Homo sapiens: one gene and its partner. The protein of the gene in region 2 interacts with the protein of the main gene of each other region in a biochemical or structural test. Each region holds a gene or a part of one and is shown on either strand. Other genes may lie near its edges. The genes, in order: HOMER1 and AGAP2.

Evidence for each region.
Region 1: the proteins of AGAP2 (region 2) and HOMER1 form a complex in vitro, tested with the Homo sapiens proteins (one study listed by BioGRID).

What each region holds. Positions count from the first base shown.
Region 1 is NC_000005.10:79,371,956-79,375,283, reverse strand, and holds the end of HOMER1 (homer protein homolog 1), read left to right. Parts: 3' UTR 1-2,648; downstream 2,649-3,328. UniProt on the Homo sapiens protein: Postsynaptic density scaffolding protein. Binds and cross-links cytoplasmic regions of GRM1, GRM5, ITPR1, DNM3, RYR1, RYR2, SHANK1 and SHANK3.
Region 2 is NC_000012.12:57,728,666-57,732,493, forward strand, and holds part of AGAP2 (arf-GAP with GTPase, ANK repeat and PH domain-containing protein 2), read right to left. Parts: coding exon 3,738-3,828; intron 3,303-3,737; coding exon 3,144-3,302; intron 2,978-3,143; coding exon 2,891-2,977; intron 2,806-2,890; coding exon 2,701-2,805; intron 2,289-2,700; coding exon 2,126-2,288; intron 1,950-2,125; coding exon 1,830-1,949; intron 1,103-1,829; coding exon 974-1,102; intron 1-973. UniProt on the Homo sapiens protein: GTPase-activating protein (GAP) for ARF1 and ARF5, which also shows strong GTPase activity. Isoform 1 participates in the prevention of neuronal apoptosis by enhancing PI3 kinase activity.

The DNA of each region.
Region 1 (3,328 bases), on a different chromosome or scaffold from region 2:
ACACATTTTAAAGCCAACTAACGAAGGCAGCTGAGTCCCTCAGAAATTTTTCTTTTTAAGTTTCTAATAAATTTGACACACAGTACTGAAATACAGCAGCCCGTCATTGACAGGCTGGTCTAGCAATGTTAAGTATATTTACAGAATATGCAGTTACATTTATTTATATATTTTGCAAGAAATCTTTTCTGAATGATCAATGCATTTCAATTTACGAATAATAATGGTTATTGGGGAACTGTTTATTATAGATAATTTTAAGGTGTATAGCTATTTTAAAGGGGGTCCATTTACATCAAACAGCTGATCAGAGGACTCTATCTAAATTGTGATCGTGGCAGATAGAGATGGAGTCATGTACTCTATCTGGCTCTACACATCAATCACATCTTGATTCAAACCTCACAAGGCAATATTCTGAATTGTTAACTAGGTATTTCAAAACAGGAATTAAATTCAATAGGCTCTTCTCAGTGAACAGGTTTTAATGTTGTTTTGATGTAATTTTAAAAGACTTTTAGCAAACATGCATTTCTTTATATGATATATTTCTTTTACGAAGCTATTTTAAAAGTAAGCCAAGTGCTGTCTAGTCTGCTTATAAAGTAGGAATTGCATCAGAGTACATATATTCTTGCTGTACAATGCCTGTGATGTTGAGGAGGGTTCTTTTTTAAAGTGTATGCTTGAGTAACTGACTCTATGGAGTCTATAAATGCACTGACTTCTTGTTTGTACCCCAAAATGATCGAATTGTTAAGTACAAAATTAAGCTAATTAACCAATTTGTAACCATTTTTTCACTCATAAACAGCTACTCAATACTAGACAATTTTGTTTTTTATGTATGTGTATGTACGTAAATACATACATATTAATTTACATTAGAGTGAAAAATAAATGGTTTGTTTCTGAAGTTAGTTTCTTAAGTGAGTTTTCAGGTGTCTCTGAAAAATTTATAACAATCATGTATTATATGTGCTGTAACATCATGTACGTTACCTCCATCTATTTTAGGATATTTTCCTCACCTATATATTATAGGGAGAATAATTTAGATACACATGCTCAGAGCTGAGATATTTCTCTGATAAATCAGGTAACAAAATGTATTTGATTGATGGAATTTTGAAGTAAATGTGTTTTTATCCATCAGTTTCTGAGTAACAAAGAGCACCAAGTTTTAATTTAAATAGGAGATTTAACACTAGGGATCAGGGAGTTTAGTATGAAGAGTTAAAAAAATTTAAAAAACAGTGTAAGCTGTTGAAATGGCAAGTGAATTATTTTAATGATGTAATAAAATATTTTTAAATTTTGACATAGTGATCATTTAATGAAAAAACTCACCAAAATGTCTCCATTTGAATTGTATTGATAATGTGGGACATATGTGTGATTCAATATATACATATACCCATATGTATATACAGAAAATTATTTTTAATACTTTCCTACTGATAATGAAATTTAAAATTGGAAATTTTGTGAGTGTTTTTCTTGTCCAATAGAGCCTAATTGTTTCCTTTTTTAGTGATTTAACAATCTCTTGAGGGCTGCACCTTTAAATTCCCAGATTGTCAATAGACATGTACAGTATATGGGATAAGGTGGACACAAGTGCACATATAAATAAAATCTTCTTAAGACTTTTAACTATTCATTTACAGTAGGAGAGTATGTAGAAATCATCATCCACAAGTCATAATTAGGTTGTGTGCCTACTGTAGTTTTTTCCATTTCTGTATTATATAAACATTTGCATATTAAAATTTGATTTTTCCCAGAGACAAGTATTATATACTGTATCTATATTTAAATCAAACTGTGGTAATATATTTCTCAGAAAATAATGTTGGGGACTATAGCCTGAACATGTGGACTTGAAGCGACATGGAGGAGGAGGTTGATCCCATTGTGTATAAGTTAATATGTGATAACTATTGAATCTTGTACAAAAACAAAAATTGAAAAAAAAAAAGAAAAGCAAAAATACAGTTTTTATTTTGAAATACATTTGTTCTCTGGAGAATGTACTTTATCTTTTTTTCCTCCAGTCTTTTACAGATATTTAAAAGCATTTAAATGATGACAGCATTTACTTAAATCTTTCAGGTGCTACTGGATTTTGCATTAGTGTGTTATGTTGTGAAATCCTAACTTTGACATAAAAGGTTTTATAAGTATTCCCCTGCCTGGAAAATTAGTTTTTGTTCTCCTCTCTCTCTCTTTCTCTTTTCCACTTTCTTTCTGCAGACTAAAACATGCTCACGAAGTTGCATCTCTCCTTGTCTCTATAGAAGATCTCCAGCACCATCATAGATTTGATGTTCTGCTGTCATTGAACTGTTGGGAAGCAGTTAGAGGAAAAGCTCACTTTTTTTTTCAGGTGGAAATAAAAGGAACACTCAAAATTAAGCCAACACCACCACTACCTTTAAAAACTAGTTTATTTGCCCTGTTAAAATTAAATGTATTCTTTAACATGTGGGCTACAGTCTCCCATGTTTTTATTTAACTGAAGCATATACACTTCGGTCATTTATCTCCTTGTGGTCCTGATTTTGTCAGTACTGGAATGGGAGGCAGGTCGGGGAAAGTTTGTTTGATGGCAGTGGATTCTTATTGTTGTTTTAACCATTGCATTTATTTGATATCAAATGATTTTGACATCCTGAAATTCTGTGCTTGAAGTCATGAAATGATTTTCATTGAATTTTTGCCTCCTAAATGTATAGCATGAAGTAAATTAATTTATACAAAATCTTAAGAAACCTTTCAGGTAAGAAGTAGTTGAGATTGACACTGTTAGAAAATTTCTCAATTTCTAAATTTAGAAATTACTAGAAAAGGAAAGGATGTGTCATTCACCTTACTCCAAATTGCGAAAGTGTGTTTTTTCCTAATATTCGTGTTAAATTTTACCTTAAAATTTTTATGATAGTTTTTCTTCATGAGAAACTGATATATAGATGTCACGCAAATACAAGCAAAGTTACTGAATTAAAGTAGTGGGTACTTAGCATTTTTTGTTTATATATTACATAGTAAAATAGCTAAAAATCATATCCCAGAAAACTCAAAAACTCAGTCAGCACTACACTGCCTGGTGGTTTCTGCTTAGTACACTAAATAGAAAAAAAAAAAAATTTTAAGTGATTTTTACCAAAAACTTGAACTAGGGAGAAATTGCATCAGGACTAGAATAGACAGAAGGCCACAAACTCCTAGTCGACTTCTTGTCAAGTCTCTGATCTCTGTAAGGACCTCTCTTTTAGGTTAAAGGACACACTGCTTCTCGGCCTTTTGGCTAAGATCAGGTGTAGGT
Region 2 (3,828 bases):
AGCGAGGAGCTGGACCTCTGGGAGAAGAAGGGAGGGTCAGGATCTGAGTGAACACGGGGGAAGGGGACAGAAGCTGGGGCGCAGGGCTGAGATGAGAGGGCCCTGGGGCTGGTGGCGGTGGGGGTGCGGGGAATCACTGAGGGACAAGAATGGGGATCACTATGGTCAAGGGCTGTTGGGGAGCACTTGGCAATAGAAAGTTATCGGGAGAAGGCCGGGCACGGTGACTCATGCCTGTAATCCCCACCGCCTGTAATCCCAGCACTTTGGGAGGCCGAGGCGGGCAGATCACGAGGTCAGGAGATCAAGACCATCCTGGCTAACACAGTGAAACCCAGTCTCTACTAAAAAATACAAAAAATTAGCCGGGCATGGTGGCAAGTGCCTGTAGTCCCAGCTACTTGGAAGGCTGAGGCAGGAGAATGGTGTGAACCCGGGAGGCAGAGCTTGCAGTGAGCCGAGATCGCACCACTGTACTCCAGCCTGGGTGACAGAGTGAGACTCCATCTCAAAAAAAAAAAAAAAAAAGAAAAGAAAAAAAAAAGAAAGAAAGTTATTGGGAGAAGGGGCTGGGTGGTCACAGAATCCAGGATCTGGGGAATCAGTGGGAGATGCTGAGATAAGGGGCTGAATCACTGGGGATCAGCGGGGCTGCCGGGTGCAGGGGCTGGGGTGGTAAGTGGAGTTGAGGGAAGGAAGAGGAACTAGAACGTCATTAGGAGAGGGAGCAGGAGCTATAGACATGGACATCGTTGAGAACAGGGGCTGGGGAAAGGAATTAGCTGGGGAACAAGGAAAGAAGGACAGGGGCTGGGGGATGTCCATCCACTCTTTCACTAAGTTGTGTGCAGTGGTAATGGTAGTCAAGCACTCAGCTCAGGCACTTTTCCTCCTGCTGCAGGAGTTAGGCCAGGGAGCTGATGTTGGGGATGAGGGTTCTGGGTGGGAGTGGAAGTGCCTGCCAGAGCCTCACCTTCAGCCTGCCCAGCCGAGCCTTCAGTCTTGGATGGTGTTGTCAATTTTTTCCTCCTCTGCTTCTTCACCATGGGAGAAGGAGGGGGTTCCCGACTCAGGGGGCTCAGGTCTCCAGATGGGGTACAGTCTTAGGGAGGAAGACACAGCTGCCTCAGTAGCCCCCTCCACAGATTTCCTGATTTCTTGATAGCCTGTCTCATTCCCTGAACTAGCTTTGGCATTTTAGGGCTCCCCTCCTCAACTGTCCCTCTCCAGGAGTTCCCCCTTGATCATTCCTGGGGATGCAGGGAGATGAGAGGTTTAGAGTCAGTCCTGCACTCAGATCCTGGTTCTGCCACTTACTGGCCTTAAGACCTTGAGCAAGGCACTTAATCTTCTGAGCCTCAGTTTCTTTATCTCTGAAATAGGGGTAATAATCTTGACCTGACAAAACTGTTGTAAGGATCATTTGTTTACAATGTTATTTGCATACTATATATATATATTTTTTTTCAAACATGTCAAACATGGCTGACTATGTACTAGACAATATTCTCAGTTTGTTTAAACCTCAAAGCAACCCTCTGAGGTAGAAACTATTATCTCCATGTTACAGATGAGGAAACTGAGGCACGGAGAGGTCAAGTAACTTGCCCATGTGGCAAGCCAGGATTCAAGCTCAGGCAGTTGACGTTAGAGTCCACTTGTCTTAACCATTATGATAGACATGGTATGATTGAACTTATTCATGTGTGGGGCTCCATGTGTTCACTCATGCATTTATTCCAGCCTCCAAGCCTTCACCCCATATTCATTTCCCACACTCATCCTATTTGGGTGTGGAAGACAGCAGATGGAAGGTCATCCCCACTGACCCGTGCTGAGGGCTCGGGCCAAATTCCGGTCTGGCTTCAGCAGGTGTTTGGATGTCTGATCTGGTGGTGGCTGCAGGGAACTGGGGCTGGGGCTAGGGCTTGGCATGGGAGTAGTGGCTTCTGTCGGAAGAAGATGAAACCTCAGTGAGCCTCTTTCTTCTGGCCCCATTCCTTATGTGGTCCCTCTTTATCACCCAGCTTCCTACTCGCCCAGTGCCAGCCCCCTCTTCCCTCTTACCCCTCTTTTTCCCCAGCCCTGGCCCCTCTTCTGCTCCTATGTCATAAACCTTACTCACCCAGGCCTTCACCCATCTGGACAGTGCTCATGTCCTTGACGAGCCCGTTAATGCTGGCTGAGGGGCCAAAGGCAGAGATGGCCCTCGGGGGCCGCTTGCCCGGGACTTTGACTGTTGTTCGCAGCAAGTCCATCTCCTTGCCGTGGGTACTGTGGATGTAATCCTGGAGGGGTACAGGGCCGAGAGTGTAGGGAAGGTTGGGGTCCTTGGTATGCTGGGAAGCAGTCAACATGGTACAGAATAGAGAGGGACTGGGGAGGGGTCTTGGGGGCCAAATGGGTTGTGATGAACATCTAGGGGATGGGCCCATCAGACTTGGCCCAGCAATTGTCTCCTCCAGAAAGCGTTCCCTTCCTGGGTGCTCTCCCACTAGACTGCAAGTTCCTGGGGCAATGTATTTACCTTTACATTCCTGGCATGGGCACATGGTGGGCTCTTAACACATGCCTGCTAAACTTAAGAGAAGAGGACTAGCACTTCCTAGAAATGAGGTTAGTGCTTTGTCAGAGGCATAGACAGGTAGAACTTGAGGGAAATCCAAAGCTGGCCAATGTGGCCCAGTCTCTGCCACTCACGTTAATACTGGGGTGGTAGAGTAGAAAGCCATTACTGGACAGGGTTACATATTTCTTCTTCCATTCTTTGTTCAAGGAATTGCCACTTCGTTTTAGTAGGAAGCTCTGGAGAAAGGGGAAAGACACATGTGGGAAAAAAGCCAACTAAGACCAGCTGCCCCTAGCCTGTCCCAGCCCCTGGATCACTCACCTGTTTGATGGGGATGGCTCGCCCACTCCCTGTTGTCTCTCCCCGACTATCCAAGCTTCGTTTCTCGGAGTCACTACCCCGACGATTCTGGAATGGTTATTGGAATCAGTTTGAGGATGGATAGAGGGATACACTGATGTGACGATAGGGAAGATAGATGAAGAAGGGCCCAACAGAGGAGTCTAGGGACTAGGGAAGATGGGCAGGTCATGGGGGACAGGAGGATGGGGGTCAGCATGTCCATGTCCAATACCGCAAAAAGGCTGGTCCTGCGCTTGGCTGCCCGGTGCAGGGACCCTGGGGTGCTCAATCCAGCCACTGCAGCTGCCTCGGCTCGGAGCTCCCGGTGACCAACATTCGGTGAGGACGGGAGGGAAGAAGAGTAGTCGCTAGTGTGGCCCCCGTTACTAGCCTGGGCACATATGGAAGAGTCAGCAGAGCTGAGATGCCCCCTACTCCACCAAGCTACACTCATATCTCGTTATGGGGAATTTGAGACATTCCTTGATCACCTCACCATTTATTTATGTTGTCATTAATAATTTTTAAAATCCTCACTAACATTGTGACAATGCTTTAAATGTTGTAAAGGTTGATTCACAAGTATTGTGTCATACAATCTTCCTGATAGCCTTGGGAGGTTAGGTGAGTTGCTTAAGGACACTGCAAATGATGTCTCAAATCTGGTTGATTTCCAGTCCAATGCACTTTCTGCCAATAGTTTCACTGCCATTTCCATCTGTTTCCCCACTCCCTGAACCTCCTTGGGTACTCTGTACCTGTCCTAGGATCCCCAGCCCCTCTGCATCTTACCGGCCCCTCTGCAGACTCTGAAACCCCAACTCACCTGGCCAGCTACCGGAGTGGATGCAGCTGAGTGGCTTGGGGAGCTGGGCAGGGACTTGCAGGCAGCCAGAAGCTGTTGCTGCTTGCGCAAG